Linked DNA regions of Homo sapiens: region 2 is linked to region 1. A link means that fine-mapping ties the variant in region 1 to the expression of a gene that starts in the linked region. Tissue or cell type: whole blood. Region 1 holds a variant in brackets; the other region holds the start of a gene. All regions are shown on one strand. Distances are between the middles of the regions.

Region 1 (10,231 bases):
TAAGGAAGGGAAGCATTTATAAAGACTGGGTTCCGCAGAAAAGAACGTTGGGTCTGGCTCGTGGGTGTGGCTTTCTCCAGGCTCCTCAGGAAGAAATTTAGAACAAAGAATGCGGGAGAGTTGAGTTCTCAGTTCTCCCTTATCTGAGGTCTATGTGGCAGTGGATCCATTTGTTAGGGATCCATGTTTATGAAACGCAGGGCCATATGTTACGATATTATTTTTAGTTTCTATAGGGAACCAAACATCTCGTGATTCCAACTTCCTTGGCTACTCTTTTTTTTTTTTTTTTTTTTTTCAGACAAGGTCTCACTGTGTTGCCCAGGCTGGAGTGCAGTGGCGAGATCTGGACTCACTGCAACCTCTGCCTCCAGGGTTCAAGTGATTCTCCTGCCTCAAGCCTCCTGAGTAGCTGGGACTACAGGCATGCCCCACCACGCCCAGCTAATTTTTTGCCTTTTTAGTAGAGATGGGGTTTCACCATGTTGCCAAGGCTGTTCTGGAACTCAAGTGATCTGTCCGACTCGTCCTCCCAAAGTGCTGGGGTTACAGGCGTGAGCCACCTCGCCCAGTTGGCTATCGTTTTAGGCTACTATTACCTTCTTGCTTATCAAATTGCTTATTTACTTCTCAGCACTAGCTAGGTATCTGGAATTGTTATTTTTATTTTATTTACTTATTTTTTTTTTTGAGACGGAGTCTCGCTCTGTCGCCAGGCTGGAGTGCAGTGGCGCGATCTCGGCTCACTGCAACCTCTGACTCCGATTTCAAGCAATTCTCCTGCCTCAGCCTCCTGAGTAGCTGGGACTGACAGGCATGTACCACCATACCCAGCTAATTTTTGTATTTTTAGTACAGACAGGGTTTCACCATGTTGGTCAGGATGGTCTCCATCTCTTGACCTCGTGATCCGCCCACCTCACCCTCCCAAAGTCCTGGGATTACAGGCGTGATCCACTGCGCCCGGCTGGATTTGTTCTTAAAGAAATTCAAGATTTTCCTCTATTTTCATGCTTGTGGCAGGATGGTAGAGAGGTGGGAGGACTGGCAGGCCCCTAACAGGGGTTCCTGCTTCGTCTCACACCCCCATTATGAACATCCCTCACCAGAGGATACATTTATTAAAATCAATGAACCTATAAACCTACATTGATACTTTATCTTTTTTTTTGAGATGGAGTCTGTGTCCCCAGGCTGGAGTACAGTGGGCCATCTCAGCTCACTGCAACCTCCACCTCCCGAGTTCAAGTGATTCTCCTGTGTCAGCCTCCGGAGTAGCTGGGACTACAGATGTGCACCACCATGCCTGGCCAGTTTTTTTTTTTTTTTTCTTTTTTGAGACGGAGTCTCACTCCAGGCTGGAGTGCAGTGGTGCAATCTTGGCTCACTGCAACCTCTGCCTCCCGAGTCAAAGGACTCTCCTGCTTTAGCCTCCCAAGTAGCTGGGATTACAGGAGCCTGCCACCACGCCTGGCTAATTTTTGCATTTTTAGTAGAGATGGGGTTTCACCATATTGGCCAGGCTAGTCTCGAACTTCTGACCTCAAGTGATCCACTGCCTAGGGCTCCCAAAGTGCTGGGATTATAGGCATGAGCCACCACACCCAGCCTACATTGATACATCATTATCACCCAAAGTCCATAGTTTACATTAGGGCTCACTCTTGGCATCATACATTCTGTGGGTTTACAAAAATGTATAATGACATGCATCATGATTATATTATCATACAAAATAGTTTAACTGCACTAACAATCTTCAGATAAATAGACGCACACTTTGGGAGGCCCAGGTGGGTGGATTACCTGAGGTCAGGAGTTCGAGATCAGCCTGACCAATATGATGAAACCCCGTCTCTACTAAAAATACAGAAAATAGCCGAACGTGGTGGCATGCACCTGTAATCCCAGCTTACTCTGGAGGCTGAGACAGGAGAATTCGCTTGAACCCAGGAGGCGGAGGTTGCAGTGAGCTGAGATTGCGCCATTGCACTCCAGCCTGGGCAGCAAGAGCGAAACTCTGTCTCAAAAAAAAAAAAAAATTTTACTGAGGTCTATTTTATCAATTATTTCTCTCACGGATCTTGCCTTTGGTGTTCTATCTAAAAAGTGATCACCAAATTCAAGATCATCTGGATTTTCTCCTATGTTATCTTCTGTGAGCTTTATAGTTTTGCGTTTTACATTTAGGTCTGTGATCCATTTTGAACTAATTTTTGTGAAGGATGTAAGGTCTGTCTAGTTTCATATTTTGCATGTGGATGTCCAGTTGTTCAACAACATTTGTTGAAAAGACTATCTTTTCTCTATTGTATTACCTTTGCTCCTCTGTCAAAGAAATTTTTTACGTTTAAAAAAATGTAAAGATTGGGCATGGTGTCTCACACTTGTAATCTCGGCTACTCAGGAGGCTGAGACAGGAAGATTACTCAAGCCCAATAATTTGAGAACATTATGAACAACATAGCGAAACCCCATCTCTAACAACAAAAAAGAATTAGCCTGGCATGGTGCACACCTGTAGTCCCAGCTACTCCGGAGGCTAAGGTGGGAAGATTATTTGAGCCCAGAAGTTCAACGCAAGGTTGCAGTAAGCTATTGGTACCGCTGCACTTCAGCTCGGGTGACACAGAAAGACCCCATCTCTTTTTTCTTTTTTCTTTTTTTTTTCTTTTGAGATGGAGTCTGGGTCTGTAGCCCGGGCGCAATCTTGGCTCACTGCAACCTCCACCTCCCAGGTCCCAGCTCAAGCAATTCTCCTGCCTCAGCCTCCCAAGTAGCTGGGATTACAGGCGCACGCCACCATGCCCAGTTAATTTCTGTATTTTTAGTAGAGACGGGGTTTCACCATGTTGGCCAGGCAGGTCTTGAACTCCTGACCTCATGATCTGACTGCCTTGGCCTCCCAAAGTGCTGGTATTACAGGCGTGAGCCACTACGCCCAGCCTCCATCTCTTTTTTCTTTTTAGAGACAGGGTCTTACTATGTTGCCCAGGCTGGTCCTGAACTCCTGGGCTCAAGCAATCCTTCTGTCTTGGCCTCCCAAAGTGCTGGGATTACAGGTGTGAGCCACTGAGCCCAGCCGAGCCTATTGCTTAAAAAAGTTAAAAATGGCTGGACGTGGTGGCTTACTCCTGTAATCCCAGTACTTTGGGAGGCCGAGGCGGGCGGGTCACCTGAGGTTGGGAGTTCGAGACCAGCCTGACCAACATGGAGAAACTCCGTCTCTACTGAAAATACAAAAAACTTATCCCGGCTAGGTGGTGCATGCCTGTAATCCCAGCTACTCAGGAGTCTGAGGCAGAAGAATTGCTTGAACCCCGGAGGCGGAGGTTATAGTGAGCTGAGATTGCGCCATTGCACTCCAGCCTGGGCAACAAGAGTGAAACTCTGTCTCAAAAAAAAAAAAAAAGTTTAAAATGTAAGGAAGATGTTTCTGTTAAGCTATGCTGTTCTTTTTGTAAGGATTAAGTTTGGGACTTAGAGAATACGTATGTGTAGCTACTTAAGTATACATAAAATATCTCACCATAACAAAAATACAAAACCAAATTAGAATATTAGTTGTTTTGGAAAGGGAAACTGGGCAGTTGGGAGGCAGAAGTAGAAAGACTTTTCTTGGCCGGGTGTGCTGGCTCATGCCTGTAATCCCAGCACTATGGGAGGCCGAGGTGGACGGATCACCTGAGGTCAGGAGTTCGAGACCAGCCTGGCCAACATGGTGAAACTCTGTCTCTACTATAAATACAACAAAAAATTAGCTGAGCATGGTGGTGCATAGTTACTTGGGAGGCTGAGACAGGAGAATCGCTTGAACCCAGGAGGTGGAAGTTGCGGTGAGCCGAGATTGCACCACTGCGCTCCAGCCTGGGCCACAGAGCAAGAAAAAAAAAAAAAAAGAAAGCGTTTTCTCGTATACACTTTCTGGATTTAATGTGAATGAATCGCCTATTTCAAAAATGCAAGGCCGGGCGCGGTGACTCACACCTAAAATCCCAGCACTTTGGGAGGCCGAGGCAGGTGGATCACGAGGTCAGGAGTTCAAGAGCAGCCTAACCAACGTGGTGAAACCCCGTCTCTACTAAAAAAATGCAAAAAATTAGCTGGGCATGGTGGCGCACACCTGTAATTCCAGCTGCTCAGGAGGCTGAGGTAGGAGAATCGCTTGAACCCGGGAGGCAGAGGTTGCAGTGACCCGAGATCTCGCTACTGCACTCCAGCATGGGTGACAGAGTGAGACTCTGTCTCAAATAAATAAATAAATAAATAAATAAAGTAAAAATAAATAAAGCAAAACAGCAAAAAAAATTTTTTTTTGTTTCTTTTCCGGAAGATATATTTTATGTAAATATAAGCAAACACATATCTATCTTTTTTACCTGGCATAGAGTTTGGCATAGAATCGGGGAAAAATTGGGCAAAGGAAGTCAGGTACCCCCAAAAGAACCCAACTTGACTACAAAAGCTTGCAGCCTTCAACTAGTGATTTTTAATTAGTTTATTTAATTTTGCAACACCAAAACAAAAAAGTTTTTCCTGCATCATTTAATCTACTTGCGTTAGTGTTGCCCTGAGAGGTGGCTGCAAAATCATATTAGTTCAATTACAGAACTTCGCATTATATTAGGCATAACTATTCCCTTTGGGTCCTAATTAAATAAGGTTGAATCAACTTTCTGCCTTCAGCATTTGTGCTAAAAAAAAAAAAAAATCCCTATTGCATTATCCTACATACCCTTGGAAAAATAAAAAAAGAGAGAATGAATATCTTGTCCCAAAGGGTTAAAACCTCAGAATCATATTTTTTTAACTCACTGGAAAATGGCTTCCACATTCCACAGGATAAGGAAGGAAAACTGTGAAATCACTTTGAATGGATTTGTTCAGCAAGGGAAGAGCTGGCTCATTTTCCACGTGGACTGCCAAGTTCACCAGCCGTGGGGGGAAATGATTTTAGTCTTACTTTCTTACTTCACATACATTTTTAAACTGCAGTCTTATGGAAATGAAAATCCCATTTGGAGATCAGATTCTTCAGATGGATTTAATTTATATACCATTTGACCAAGTCAATCAGACCAGCTTAGTGGAAGGCTTTTTTCATTATAATGTCGTGGGCTTTGCCTAGGAATCTTCTTTTCTAAGTTATAGAAAGTCAATTTAGTAAGTACAGCATCTAATTTAGGCTTTGTACTTAATTACCTTGGGACTGCATTAAAACTTTCTTCTGAGCAATAATTACATTGCTTCTCCTTAAAATGCAAACTCTCTGAATCATAGTCTGATTTAACCTTCCAAAAGCTAGAGTTTCCCTAGATTGACTGGTAGCTAAAAATGCTCCAGGGACCTGATTTCAACCCATAGCTTTTTTGTGTAGTAGTTATAAAAGTGCAAAAATGGAGCAGACCAGGGCAAGAAAACAGAACATGTAGGGCTTCTCTCTCAAGAAATTAGACCCTCTCTCACTCTAAGATAGGGCCAGCGCCCTAATCTTCACTGCTCAACCTCCTTTTTCTCATCCCCCGCTATGGTTGTGGAGTATAAATGAATTAATTTACTCTTATCTGACAGAGCTGGAGCC[A/T]GTTGGATTTAACAAAAACTGCAAACCAGCACGTGCTCCCACTCTTATATGTGTACCCTGGGGTTCACCGAAGAACTTTCTGCCACTATTCTTTCCCTTCAAGGGAAGCTGGAGTAAACACACCTCCTGCCACTTCATTACATCAGAGGTTTGTCTCTCCCATTAGTAAATCCACAGAGAGTAGGGACTTCCTGTCTGCCAAATGGTGTAGATGGAAGAGATTCAAATATTTGAGACAGAACCTGCATTGCGTCTGGCCCTTTATAGATGTTTTCTCTAGCTGAGACAGCCAATTCGAATACCCTGCGCTCTCCCTAGCTTCCTTGTGCCTCTAGGAACTGCTTCTCCCCTGTTTCGTGACCTTCATCTACCCCCTTCCCCAACCAAAAGATTTTTGTATTCTTTACCAGAGACCCTACAAAATCCTGGTACATAGTAGGTGTTCAGTAATTATTTGTTGAGTAAATTAAAATACTAAATTATGACTATCTAGGACCTGTTTCCCAGGCTTCTGGAAATAATCAGGATGGTTTCAGCCCATGCGGATCTCAGTATCTAAGAATTCGGGAGCAGGAAACATTTGTAAGACCGTTTAATGCTTGAGCTTGAAGAGACCTGTCAGTGAAGTGCTAATAAATGTAAATAGCTGTGTTTGAGGAAGGAGGGACGGCTTAACTTGCATTGCAGGTGCTAAAATGCGTAATTGGTTTTGGGTAAACTAATTTTACTTAAACTAAACTTAACTTCCATATCAATGGCAGAGAAATTGCTGATGTCAGCAATGATTAAGTTCACTGGCTGTGAGGCGGTCACGGCAAAAAAAAACATTCACTGAAAGCTTATAGGGATGTTAACAGATGTGGAACAACACCCATTTTACTGACATAAACTAAAGAAAAGGCAAAGCTATTAGCAAAAGTCACTTGGAAGCTTGGACTACAATTTGAGAGTGGATCTCCTGAAATTATTTAACTCTGTAAAACAAACAAATTAGCCTATTCTCATCTATAATCCTTGTTCACTCTTAGCTGGAGTGTTAGAACAACTATCCAGCTGATTTACTAATTCGCAATATTAAAGGAAGCTTGGTCCAGAGGGAGGATGTAGCTCACTGTTTCAGCCTGGGAACCTCCTCTACCACATCCCGTGCCCTGATGGGGAGACCCAGCCTTGCCAGAGAGCCACACAGACTGAAAATGCAGAGAGAATTTCCTCTTCTGTCTTTGGTTCTTAGCTCTTACTGAGCCAGAGGAGCCCCAGGACATTTTGGCCAGGGCCTTTTTGCATCTCTAAAAGGGGATTTTACAAATTCCTGCTTCTTAGAGTTGGGAGGATTAAATGAGTTAATCCATGTAAAGTTCTCAGAACAGTGCCTGGCACAAGTAAAGACTTATAATACATACTTGTTATTATTACTATGATTATTCTTCTCTCAGGTTCTGGCACATCTAAGACCTCTACAGTGCTGGAACATCGCCCGAAGGAAACACATTCATTCACATTTCTATTAAGCTCTTCCAGGGAAACTAGCATTTAATGAGCAGCAACTATAAGACAGAAAGAAAACACTTGACATAGATTGACTCGTTTACTCCTCATAATAACTCTAAAAATTATTGCGCACATTTTAGAGGTTGGAGAACAGACTCAGACCATGTACAGTGAAGCTCAGAATTTCCTGGCATAAGGCTGGCTTGGAATTGAAAAGGTATGTCTGACTCTAAACTGGGTCCTCATTCACATCACCCACGTGAAAGGCATGAATCACCAGACTCCTGTCCGTAAGTGCTGCGCAGGTTCTGTACTACAAGGGCACTGGTGGAGACAGCAAGGCTGAGTTCTTCTTATTCTGCAGCTGCTCTCAGCAGGGCTGTATCTGTCCGGAGGTAGTGCCTTTTCCAAGTCACACAGAGGTGTTCTGTGGACTCTCAGAGGCCCTGGAATCTTGTATCTTAAGATTCAAAATTGAAGTCACATATGAACACTAGAGCTGATGTGAAGACTGCATATTTTGATTCCCAAAGTTTTTTATTTTTTTAATTTTTTTTATCTTTTATTTTTGAGACAGGGTCTTGTGCTATCGCCAGGCTGGAGTGCAGTGGTGTGATCTTAGTTCACTACAACCTCCACCTCCTGGGTTCAAGCGATTCTCCTGCCTCAGCCTCCCGAGTAGCTGGGACTATAGGCACACGCCACCACACCTAGCGAATTTTTTTGTATTTTTAGTAGAGAAGGGGTTTCACCATGTTGGCCAGGATGGTCTCGATGTCTTGACCTCTTGATCTGCCCACCTTGGTCTTCCAAAGTGCTGGGATTACAGGTGTGAGCCACTGCACCCGGCCTCCGAAGGTTATTATTATTATTATTATTTTTAATTTTATGGAGACAGAATCTCACTATGTTGCCCAGGCTAGTCTCAAACTCCTGGCCTCAAACAATCCTCCTGCCTCGGCCTCGCAAAGTGCTGGTGTTACAGGACAGAGAAATATGTTATGGAAAGGGGTCCCGAACAAGACCCTAAGAGAGCGTTCTTGGATTTCGTGCAAGAAAGAATTCAGGGAGAGTCCGCAGTGCAAAGTGAAAGCAAGTTTATTAAGACAGTAAAGAAATAAAAGAATGGGGAGGCTCTGGGTGCCTCCCCGGGGGCCCGGTCCCTGGCGCTGCCCTGGCGGCCTCATGGCCGGCTCCGAGGTGGCCATGCCGCTTTCCCCGTCACGAGGGGCCCAGGAGGCTCGCGGCAGGGGCTGCCACATGCAGGACCTGCCCCGGCGTTGGGGTGTGGGGTCCCCTGGCCTGGAGCGGGCTCGTCCTGGCGGGCCTGGATCCAAGCACAGTCTCAGCTTTTGGAGCCAGCAGCAGCCGGGCCGAATTCAGTTTTTCCGGAATTCATTTGTTCTGACCCAAGTTTAGCCGACAGGATCCTGGCGATGCAGCCCAACAGGAAGCAAAGCACAGGGAAGCAGAAATGAGAAACAGTATCTTAACCCAAGTTTTGGATCAGTCGGCCGGGCCAGGTTTAAGTAACTTAGCACTTGTAAAGCCTGAAAAAACTAAAGCAGTAGAGAATTACCTTATACAGATGGCAAGATATGGACAACTGAGAAGGTGTCAGAACAAGGTTTAATAGAAATCCTTTAAAAAGTAAGCCAACAAACAGAAAAGACAACAACAGTGAAATTCAACAGAAGAAAAGTAATGGACTCTGATGAAGAAGACGATTATTGAACTACAAGTGCTCACAGACTAGAACTTAACAGAACAATTCTAGGACAGAAGTTAAGATCTGATTAAATATTTAGTTTGTTTATTGTCTATATGCCTTTTAAAAAATAAACTTGTTATGCAAAATAAAAAAAAAGAAATAAAAGAATGGCTATTCCATAGACAGAGCAGCCCAGCGGGCCGCTGGTTGTCCATTTTTATGGTTATTTATTGATGATATGCTAAACGAGGGGTGGATTATTCATGCCTCCCCTTTTTAGACCATATTGGGTAACTGCCTGATGTTGCCATGGCATTTGTAAACTGTCATGGTGCTGCTGGTAGTGAGCAGTGAGGACAACCAGAGGTCACTCTTGTGGCCATCTTGGTTTTGGTAGGATTTAGCTGGATTCCTTACTGCAACCTATTTTATCAAGGTTTTTTTTTTGTTTGTTTTTGTTTTTTGTTTTTTTTTTTGAGACAGTCTCACTGTGTCACCCAGGCTGGAGTGCAGCGCCGCCATCTCAGCTCACTGCAACCTCTGCTGCCTAGGTCCAAGCGATTCTCCTGCCTTAACCTCCCGAGTAGCTGAGATTACAGGCGCCTGCCATCGTGCCTGGCTAATTTTTGTATTTTTAGTAGAGATGTGGTTTCACCATGTTTGCCAGGCTGATCTTGAACTCCTGACCTCGTGATCCTCCCGCCTCAGCCTCCCAAAGTGCTGGGATTACAGGTGTGAGCCATTGCGCCCGGCCAACAAGGTCTTTATGACCCGTATCTTGTGCTGATCTCCTATCTCATCCTGTGATTTAGAATGCCTTAACTGTCTGGGAATACAGCCCCGTAGGTTTCAGCCTCATTTTACCCAGCTCCTATTCAAGATGGAGTTGTTCTGGTTCACATGCCTCTGACACTGGCATGACAGGCAGCCAGCATACCTGGCCAATTCCCAAAGTTACTTTAAGAGGGCATCTCAAAATCAGTGGGCTTTCAGGATGCACTGAAATTGTATGTGCATGTGAAGTGCCTAAGATTTTCAGGGAATAGGCCTGGCACTAGGATGAGGTGAGAGAGGCACCCAGGATGCAAAAGCTAAGGAGGCATCACTCTCAACATGGGACAAGTGCAGGCTCAGCACTGGAGGGCGATGTCTTTTTCCATTTTGTGCTCTAGGCACCTCACTCTTCTCACCCTAGTCCCAGCTTTATCTGAACAATGAAGAGCTTGGGGACCAGCACAGATAATGTAGGAAAGTGGTTTGAGATCACTTGAGGTCAAGAGTTCGAGACCAACCTGGCCAACATGGTCAAACCTCGTCTGTACCAAAAATACAAAAATTAGCCAGATGTGGTGGTGGGCACCTGTAATCCCAGCTACTCAGGAGGCTGAGGCAGGAGAATTGCTTGAATCTGGAAAGTGGAGGTTTTAGTGAGCCGAGATTGTGCCACT
Region 2 (10,231 bases), 30 kb after region 1:
ACCTGTCAGAACTTTTTTTTTTTTTTTGAGACAAAGTCTCACTCTGTCACCCAGGCTGAAGTGCAGTGGTGCTTGGCTTACTGAAAGCCTGGACCTCCCTAGGCTCAGGTGATCCTCCCACCTCAGCCTCCCATAGCTGTGTGCCACCATGACTGGCTAATTTTTTTTTTTTTTTCTTGAGACGGTGTCATGCTCCGTCACCCAGGCTGGAGTGCAGTGGCGCAATTTCGGCTCACTGCAACCTCCACCTCCCGGGTTCAAGTGATTCTCCTGTGCCTGGCTAATTTTTTTATTTTTTGTAGAGATAGGGTTTCACCTTGTTGGCCAGGCTGGCCTTGAACTCGTAACCTCAAGTGATTTGTCTGTCTCAGCTCTCCACAGTGCTGGATTACAGGCATGAGCCACTGTGACTGGTCCCCAACATCAACTTTTTATTCATGTCCTTCTTCAATCTAATATTTAACTATTTTTAGCTTTCTTGCCATGATTTCTTATGGTTAATTAACCTTGTCATGAATAAATGTTGATGCTTTTCCGTATATTGCTTCTCAGTTTGAGTTCCCCAACACAGAATTCTGTTCGCTCTTCAAAATCCAGCTCAAATTAATGAAACCAGATATAGTTATTGTATGTCTTACTATACACTTTGTCGAAATCCTACATTTTTCATGAAGCTTTCCTTGATTAACTCGGCCAAACATGAACCATAATCTCCAGGGCTTAACACAGTGTCTGGCACATACATTTGTTGGGGCTCAGAAAATGATACCCCAAAGTATGGTGCTTTGGCATGCTGAGTACTTTTGTCAGAGGTGTTCGAACCACAGCGACTCGCATCGTGAATACGGGATGGGTAAAATAAGGCTGAAACCTACTGGGCTGCATTCCCAGGAGGTTAGGCATTCTAAGTTAGGATAAGATAGCAGGTCAGCACAAGATACAGGTCACAAACTCCTTGCTGGTAAAAGGATGTGGTAAAGAAGCTGACCAAAACACACAAAAACCAAGATGCGATGTAAGTGACCTCTGGTCATCGTAGCTACTCATTATGTGCTAATTATAATACATTAGCATGCTAAGAGACAACTCCCACCAGTGCCTTGACAGTTTACAAATGCCATGCCAATGTCGGGAAGTTACCCTATCGTCTAAAAAATGGAGAAACCCTCATTTCCAGGAACTGCCCACCCTTTTCCTGGAAAACTCATGAATAATCTACCCCTTGTTTAGCGTATAATCAGGAGATGACCATAAAAGTGGCCAGCCAGAAGCCCTCAGTGCTGCTCTGTCTATGGAGTAGCCATTCTTTTATTCCTTTACTTTCTTAATAAACTTGCTTTCACTTTACTGTATGGACTTACCCCAAATTCTTTCTTGTGTGAGGTCCAAGAACCCTCTCCTGGGGTCGGGATCGGGGCCCCTTTCTGGTAACACTTTGTGTTTTCTTTTGTTTTCTTTTCTTTTTTCTTTTTTTTTTGGGGGGGGGATAAGGTCTTACTCTATTGCCCAAACTGGAGTGCAATGGCTCTTGATCACTCACAGTTCACTGCAGCCTCAATCTCCTGGCTCAAGCTGTCCTCCCACCTCAGCCTCCCAAGTAGCTGGGACTACAGGTGCACACCACCACACCTGGCTAGTTAACAACAAAAAAAAGTGTTTTGTAGCGATGGAGTTTCATCCCATTGCTCAGGCTGGTCTCGAACTCCTGGGCTCAAGTGATCCCCCTGCTTCAGTTTCCCAAAGTGCTGGGATTACAAGAGTGAGCCACTGCACCTGGCCCCCATGCTGAGTACTTTGAACTAAAGGAGATTGGAAAGCCTGAGAAGCAAAGTCTCTCACTGAACCTCTGTCCTGCTGTCTCCTATCCCTGTTACTCACCCTAGGCTAGTCATATAAACCAGAACTCCTTTCCCCACAAAGTAAGCCATGAAACGAAGAAAGGTCACTCTCTGCCTTCTCATTTGAAGACTCTCATTCCAGAGAAGTCTGCTCTATACCTGGGTGTGGAAGGAATGCTACACAGAGAGGTCAAGACGAATCTGGACAGGCCTTGCTGGGTTTCCACACTCAGTCTATTACTATTAGTTCATTCTCTTTTTGTACAATCACATTTCTACATGGATGTCCACTCTGTTGAATCTAGGCATACAAATGGACAGCTTTCTCTGGGTCTTTACTTCTGAAGGCTCCTGTGTCACATAAGACTTCCATTAAATTAATTTGTTACACTTTTCTCTTGTTAACCTGTCTTTTGTTGTAGAAGTGTTGGCCATGACCCTTATGATGGGTGAGGAAAGGTATGGAGTGCAGTGGCATGATCATGGCTCACTGCAGCCTCAACCTCCAGGGCTCAAGTGAACCTCCCACTTCAGCCTCCTGAGTAGCTGGGACTACAGGTGTGCCGTAGAGACAGGGTCTCGCTATTTTACCCAGGCTGGTCTCAAACTCCTGGGCTCAAGTGAGCCTCCTACTTTGGCCTCCCAAAGTGCTGGGATTACAGGTATAAGCCACCCTGCCGGCCTTCTGATAGTTTTTAATTTACAGTTTACAGTGTATTTCACTTTAATACATTCCTTATCTAAGATTGCCTTTGAGGTTTAAAATGTTGGAAGTTAATACCTTACATTGTATGTGCCTCTGAAGGTATCTGTAAATGATGTCCCATGTTATTATTTTTGCATTCCCTTAGAGGCAACATTTTATATAACAGTTGTCCAAAGGCCTAAGGCAGAGGATGTAATACTGGGTACTCACGGTATATGACGACTTTCCCAAATGGGAAATGAGCATGGAGGCTCTGTTTTCAGGCAGTCAGTTCTATCCTCATTTTCCTTGAGTAGAAGCATCCCTAAAATTGGCCTGAAAATGTGTCCTTGGGTCAGGGTGTAATGTGGGCTCTTTTCCAGTCTCCTTTCTTCCAATGACCTCTTCCCTACTTTACAAAAGAAAGGCATAATTCTTCCTCATGCTAAATCTTAGTAAGGTGCAATACCCGGTTATGCAAAAACCTCCAGGACACCAAAGAAAGGCACAATTGACTGGTGAATAAGAATGGGGTAACACATCCTTTCACAAGTCAGGTGGTTTTCAGTTGCTTGCTTTCAACAAGTTGAAAGAGAACCTAATCAGAGTTGTCAGCTGACAGATCATTAAAAGTATTTTTTCTTTGTTAGATCTTTATGCGATTTTTGGGCATATAATGCGAAAGGCATTCAAAGAATTGTGTGGCATTACTATAACAAAACTCCATTCATTCTCATCTGCTTTTTTTATGCGAACAAGTTTTCTCAACACTTATATCCATGGAATTGAAAACTTGGAATAGAACTGATGCTGAACTATTTCTCAAAAAAATCCATCCACTGAAGGTCATAATGTATATTAGAAAAAAGTCCACCCAAGTTCATTTCTGCAAGATGCATTGCCAATAAAATTTTGCTTTTGTGTTTAGTACTTACAAACATTTGAAATAGATTTGTTTTGATCGGTTGAAATAAGAGCTTTATGATCACAGAAAATATAAAAAACAACCCAGATACTTCAATTTATGTTCACATTTTTATTACAAGTAAGACGATCAAAATAGTTCAAATATAAAATATATTACTAGGATAAAATTCTAGAGGAGATATGCAACGTCAATATGAGTTCCAGAAAACAATATTTGGAAATTGTATTTTCCAAACTGTATTTTAAAAAAATGGATATTAGTGGGTGTTAAATCCCTATGGTATTTAGAATCCATTGGCTATACAGTATTTAAACAATGCGACAGATGAAATATTTATAAGCCGGAAAAATGTAGCTGTCATTCTAAACTGTATAAGAACATACACAGCTTTACGAAATTGTTTTAGAAGGCTCATGAAGTAAAAAGTTTGAGGACCCTGAACCAAGATGTTTGCTCTGGGTTCAGGATGTCAACATCTCCAGGGGTATTCAAACATAGGGTGTATTAAAACCTGTCGCCCTGTGTTGCGCATAAAAATTTAGTACCTTACACCGTAGTGTTTTAATTTTTGCCCATTTTAAACCGCTCTCTTCGTAGACTGTAGGCTCGTTCTATTCCTGGCTCAGCTCCTGTACAGAGGGGACACTCCTCAAACACCCCCGGAATGAATGAGTTTATCGTGAGAACTCGGAAGGCTGCTAAAATCCCCGGCCAGCGTTGGAGTTTTCAGTCCGCGTGTCCCTGGGCTTCGAAGCCCGGCAGGGCGTGGGAAGGCCCCGAGGAAACGCTGAGCACTTGCAGGCGCCGGGGCGGGGGCGGGGGCGGGCACTGGGCAGCGGGGCGGGCGCCGGGCGGGGGCGGGGGCGCAGAACCCGCAGCCGGGGGAGGTGCTGCCTCGTGCCGCCGCGCAGGCGCGCAGCAGTCTCCGTGTGAGTGCGCGTAGTCGCGCGCCTGTCCCCGCGCGGGCTCCGTAGCGCGTGTGCAGGCTGACGCAGCTCGCGGGCCCTCCTCCTGCTCTGCAGCGGCGTCGGCGGAGTTTTGGGCGTTTGGGAGGGGGGCGAGGGAGAGAGAGTCGAGAGAGGGAGGCGGCGGTGGGGAGGAGGAGGAGGAGGAGGAGCAGGCGCCGCCATGGCCGCCGCTATCACCGACATGGCCGACCTGGAGGAGCTCTCCCGCCTGAGCCCTCTGCCCCCCGGCAGCCCGGGTTCGGCGGCGCGGGGCCGGGCTGAGCCCCCCGAGGAGGAGGAGGAAGAGGAGGAGGAGGAAGAGGAGGCGGAGGCCGAGGCGGTGGCGGCGCTGCTGCTGAACGGCGGCAGCGGTGGGGGCGGCGGAGGCGGCGGCGGAGGAGTGGGGGGCGGCGAGGCAGAGACGATGTCGGAGCCGAGCCCCGAGAGCGCCAGCCAGGCCGGGGAGGACGAAGACGAGGAGGAGGACGACGAGGAGGAGGAAGATGAGAGCAGCAGCAGCGGCGGGGGTGAGGAGGAGAGTAGCGCCGAGAGCCTGGTGGGCAGCAGCGGCGGGAGCAGCAGCGACGAGACCCGCTCGTTGAGCCCCGGCGCCGCCAGCAGCAGCAGCGGGGATGGGGACGGCAAGGAGGGCCTGGAGGAGCCCAAGGGACCGCGGGGCAGCCAGGGCGGCGGCGGGGGCGGCAGCAGTAGCAGCAGCGTAGTCTCCAGCGGCGGCGACGAGGGCTACGGGACTGGGGGAGGCGGAAGCAGCGCGACCTCCGGGGGCCGGCGGGGCAGCTTGGAGATGTCGTCGGATGGGGAACCCCTGAGCCGCATGGACTCGGAGGACAGGTCAGTGCTCTGAAGCGTTTCCCCTTCCCTTCCTCCTCTTGAACTCCCGGGCCCCTCAGAGGGGGACCAAGGCGACGTTTTGCCGCGATCCCCCTGCTCCCCGAATCCTCGGCCCCTCCCCCAGACTCTCAACTCGGAAATCTCTCGCCGTCGCCGCCGCGCCCCTCTCGCAGCGCATCGCGGCTTCCAACTCTCAAACCGTTCCCCCCCAACTCTCCTTTCCCCGCCCTCTTTCCCCTCGGCGCTTCGCTCCTCACGGACCTCAGGACGGCTCTAACTCGGAAACAGTCCCCAAACGGGCCCAGATCCTCTGGCGGAGCAGAAGAGGGCCTTGATGTACACACGTCGGTACTCAAGGTTAGCTTCTTCCAACCGTGTTCGGGAACACTTGTCAGAACTACAATTGACAAGTGTTTCCAATATGGCTGGTCTCGCCTGGATTTAACAGAACTTCCTTGTCCATGGGAGAGACCCCAGCTATCACTTTTCTCTACTTAAACAAAAAAAGGACTGTTCTTTTATATTAAATCATTGCCTCCCAAATCCCTCATTTGTAGTCAGTCATGTGGTCTCCAACGTGATTTTAACAATCTTTTCTATTTGTTTTGGGAGCATATCTGGGAAAAAGTTTTAAACACGTATAAATGGTTGTGGAAAAGAATAGTGAATTGATGGCCTTTTAAGATAACTTTGCGGAATCAGAGAGTTGGAATCGTAACAAAATACAGTCTTGAAGGTACAACGTAGTTTGCGGCTTTATAGTAATGTTTCAACATGAGAGTCATGATTTTAAATGATAATATTTAAAGTCATGCATTGGAGAGGTCTCGGAAGGAATGAGTATTATTTTTCTTACTAAAGCTTGTTAGAAGTAACTGGAGAGTGACAAAAATGCGCATTTTTTCAGAACATTTAAAAAGTGTGATAGTGTATGTTTCAATTGTCTTATCATTACTTTTGATCTGTTTGGGTTAGTTGGTTTTTAATGTACTTTTAAAAAAACGAGAATCACATGCATATTATGCCACTTCTAAAGTGTATTAGCGTTTATTTTGACCATCTATGTTTTGACAATCACATTTTTTTTAAACATGCTCTCCAGAAAAGTATAGCAATGGAAATTTTAGTGGTCGATAGTGATTTTCATTTAAGAGTTTAATATTCTAAAGTTCTAGGAATTCTGATTAATTGATTAAAAACGAACACCTTAGTATTTAATGCTACAAGTAATACAGAGTCCTGGATATTTTGAAAATCTGGCATTAGATTCTGTTTGACATTAACGTCTAGTTAAGAAAATATCTTCGGGTAAAGTAGACTGTATAAACCTTAGAAAAATTGTGTTGAACTGTGTAGGCATGGGTAGGAAGGAGAATGTCTTCAAGAAAATTAAAAATTGATGTAAACTGCACAATGAAGCATGTGCTATTTTTACCATTTTATGCTCCTCTGATACCATTACATATCTGAAAGTTGACATTAGTTTATAAAATCAGCGTTTTTCATTTACTCAGTATACACGTATTATGCTTGCCTACCACTGTACAAATTAGATGTCTTCCATTTCATTCCCACAACTATGGTGCAAGATAGGTATTATTTTGACTTCTGTTTAACAGATGAAGAAGCAAGTTGAGTATCTTACTCAGGACAGTAAATACAGCATGGAAATGGTGGGCTGGATATGAGCAAAGGTTCTCAAGTCCCCTATTATTTCCACTGAAGAGTTAAAATAATTCGCCTTAAATAAGTTGAGGCCGGGCGCGGTGGCTCAGGCCTGTTAACCCCAGGACTTTGGGAGGCCGAGGTGGGCGGATCACCTGAGTTGGGAGTTTGAGATCAGCCTGGCCAACATAGTGAAACCTTATCTACATTAAAAATACAAAAATTACCCGAGAGTGGTGGCGCGCGCCTGTGTTCCCAGCTACTCGGGAGGCTGAGGCAGGAGAATCGCTTGAACCCGGGAGGCAGAGGTTGCAGTGAGCTGAGATGGTGCCACTGCACTCCAGCCTGGGCGACAGAGCGAGACTCCGTCTCAAAAAAAAACCAAGTGATATGTGTCAGAGTTTTGTTTTTAGTTAGTGTCCATTTACTACATCACTTCAGGAGACGAATTATTGGTTAAGTACATTTAGGAAGTGGAGTTGTGGCTTTTATTTGACATTAATGAGATATTTACTTGAGTATATAATTTTTACATCTTATTTCAGAATAAGAAGTAAAATACGGGTGTCACAAATCCAACTACAGTTAAAACTTGATAACCAAGCAAACTTGGTTTTCTTAATGCTTAATTTTAGAGACTACAGAATACTGTTTTTAATGTCACCATTTCAGGGTAATAGATTTGTCACTTGTATGAAGAAGGCTTACTAGTGAAACTGGCTTGGGGTCTTAATAATCTTAATTCTGAAACATCTTCTTGTTGCCTTTGAGATTTTTCTCCCAGTTATTTTGAGTTTGGAAAGGATCCCTAATTCTTATAAATTACTGTAGATTACATCAATCTGTGGATTTTATAGGTTGATTTCATGGTAAGAAAACTTCATTTTTGTAACCAGTGGAAGGATAATCTTAGTTTTAAAGTGCTCTATAACATTTTTAGGCATTCCTATTACAAAGATTCTATTATAATGCCCATTTACCTTTCCCATCGTTTTGGTTACGTTGTGCTTTTTAGTTTATCTGATATGCTCTAGAATTTGTTGAACATCTTTGTTAAATATCTTTTTCTTTTTTTTTTTTGAGACGAGTCTCACTCTATCGCCCAGGCTGGAGTGCAGTGGTACGATCTCGGCTCACTGCAACCTCTGCCTTGTGGGTTCAAGCGATTCTCCTTCCTCAGCCTCCTGAGTAACTGGGATTACAGGTGAGTGCCACCACCCCTGGCTAATTTTTGTTTTTAGTAGAGATGCGATTTCACCATGTTGTCCAGGCTGGTCTTGAAATTCCTTGACCTCAAATGATCCTCCCACCTGGGTCTTCCAAAGTGCTGGGATTACAGGAGTGAGCCGCCACCGCAGGCCATGTTAAATATCTTAAGTGCTACTTTTAAAAAGATAATTAGGCCGGGCATGGTGGCTCACCCCTGTAATCCCAGCACTTTGGGAGGCCGAGTCGGGTGGATCATTTGAGGTCAAGGAATTCCAAGACCAGCCTGGACAACATGGTGAAACCCCATCTCTACTAAAAATACAAAAAAATGAGCCAGGCATGGTGGTGCAGGCATGTAATCCCAGCTACTCAGGAGGCTGGGGCAGGAGAATGGCTTGAATCTGGGAGGCGGAGGTTACAGTGAGCTGAGATTGCACCACTGCACTCCAGCGTGGGCGACAGAGCAAGACTCCATCTCAAAAAAAGATAATTAAATATAAAGACATAGATATTAGAGGTTATGACCTGAGATGTCATTTATGGTATTGGAAGGTTTTGTGGTAAAAAGTGACTAATTTATGAAATGATTAAATACCACTTGGTACAAAAAGTTGATTTTTTTCCCCCCAGAAGAAAGTTTTTCAAAACCAGTGTAAGTTTATAGCGTGTTTATTTTAGTAAATTTAGAAATTCTTGAAATTTATATGTAATTTTATTTTTACTTTGGTTATAAAGATAGTAGGGAGAAGTATTTTGGTTATAAAGATAGTAGGGAGAAGTATTTAGCTATGTGAAACCGCTAAAAACTAGCTTTTCTTTACTCTGAACTTTTTTTCTCTTCAGTGAAGCTGAAGTACTTTTTAAAAAAGTTATGCTCTTAGGTTAATTTCAGAGGCTATGGTAACTTTAAAAAAAATTTAAAAAATTTTAAACATAATTTTATTTTCATTCTTCCAACACAGTATCATGTAAAAATAGTTTAAAATATGGTTGAATGAATGAGTCATCCAAAAAGTGATCAAATGTCAGCACTTGTTACTGAACGTGTATTTATGCTAAAAAAGTTAATGCCGAGAAAATAGAAGACAGTCTCAAGTTCAAGTAGTAAATTAGCTTTTAAATGGAATTTTAATATTTAAAATGCCCGTGGAGTTAGTTAACAAATTAGTACTAGCTATTGAATCAGTTAATATATGAAAGTACTCTTGGCCAGGCATGTGGCCCACACCTGTGATTCCAGCACTTTGGGAGGCCGAGGAGGGCAGATCACATGAGGTCAGGAGACTAGCCTGAGCATGAACCACCAGACCTGGCGCAAATCTTAATATTACTGCCTATATTTCAATTTTTGAGTAGTATATCTTTGAACTTTAGTTCCTCAACTACAAAACAGGTATTACTCTGAAGTGTTGTTTTGTGGTTCAAGTGAAATAATTTCTGTTAAAGAGCGCTGTGAACTGTTTGGAGGAATCCATCCACGTTGCTTGAATGCGTGCATCTTTTCTGTTGTAGAATGGTATTTTGGAGGGCAGGGACATTTTTGCTTTTTTAGTATCTTTGTAAGTACCTAACATAATATCTTGGGTGTGGTGAATACTCCATTAATTACTAGCATTAAATTGAGAATACCAACAGTAGTATGTATGTATGCATTTATGTATTTATTTTGAGACAGAGTCTTGCTCTGTCACGCAGGCTGGAGTGCAGTGGCGCGATCTCAGCTCACTGCAGCCTCTGCCTCCTGAGTAGCTGGGACCACAGGCACCTGGCCCAACAGTAGTATTTATTTAACGTCTTACTACTTGAGGTCTCTTGTCTATGAAAGGGGGACAATAATGGTTCCTATCCTGTAAGATTGCAATGTGAATTGTAGAGTATTTGGTACACGTTCATTAAGTGTTTACTGTGTGATGGGTATATTCTACAGATGTATATAGAATCCATGTTATGTGACAGATGCTTTATTTTTTTTGATATAGGGTCTCACTCTGTCACCCAGGCTGGAGTGCAGTGGTGCGATCTTGGCTCACGGCAGCCTCTGCCTCCCGGGTTCAAGCAATTCTCCTGCCTCAGCCTCCTGAGTATCTGGGATTACAGGCGCATGCCA

Evidence for each region.
Region 2: it holds the start of AEBP2, and the variant in region 1 is fine-mapped to the expression of AEBP2 in whole blood (INTERVAL, PIP 0.99).

Annotation. Positions count from the first base shown.
Region 1 is chr12:19,404,655-19,414,885 of GRCh38, forward strand. It overlaps a transcript of AEBP2 not described here and the pseudogene PDCD5P1. Among named protein-coding and RNA genes, the nearest start is that of AEBP2, 30 kb to the right of the region's middle. RefSeq lists enhancers at 3,378-3,878, 5,915-6,807. The variant A/T (reference allele first, on the strand shown) is at 5,582.
Region 2 is chr12:19,435,121-19,445,351 of GRCh38, forward strand. AEBP2 (AE binding protein 2) reads left to right here and starts at 4,372. Exons shown (of 8, transcript NM_153207.5): 1 at 4,372-5,250. The coding sequence starts at 4,580. RefSeq lists silencers at 4,240-4,489, 4,550-4,699, 4,710-4,809 and enhancers at 5,460-5,509, 5,540-5,629.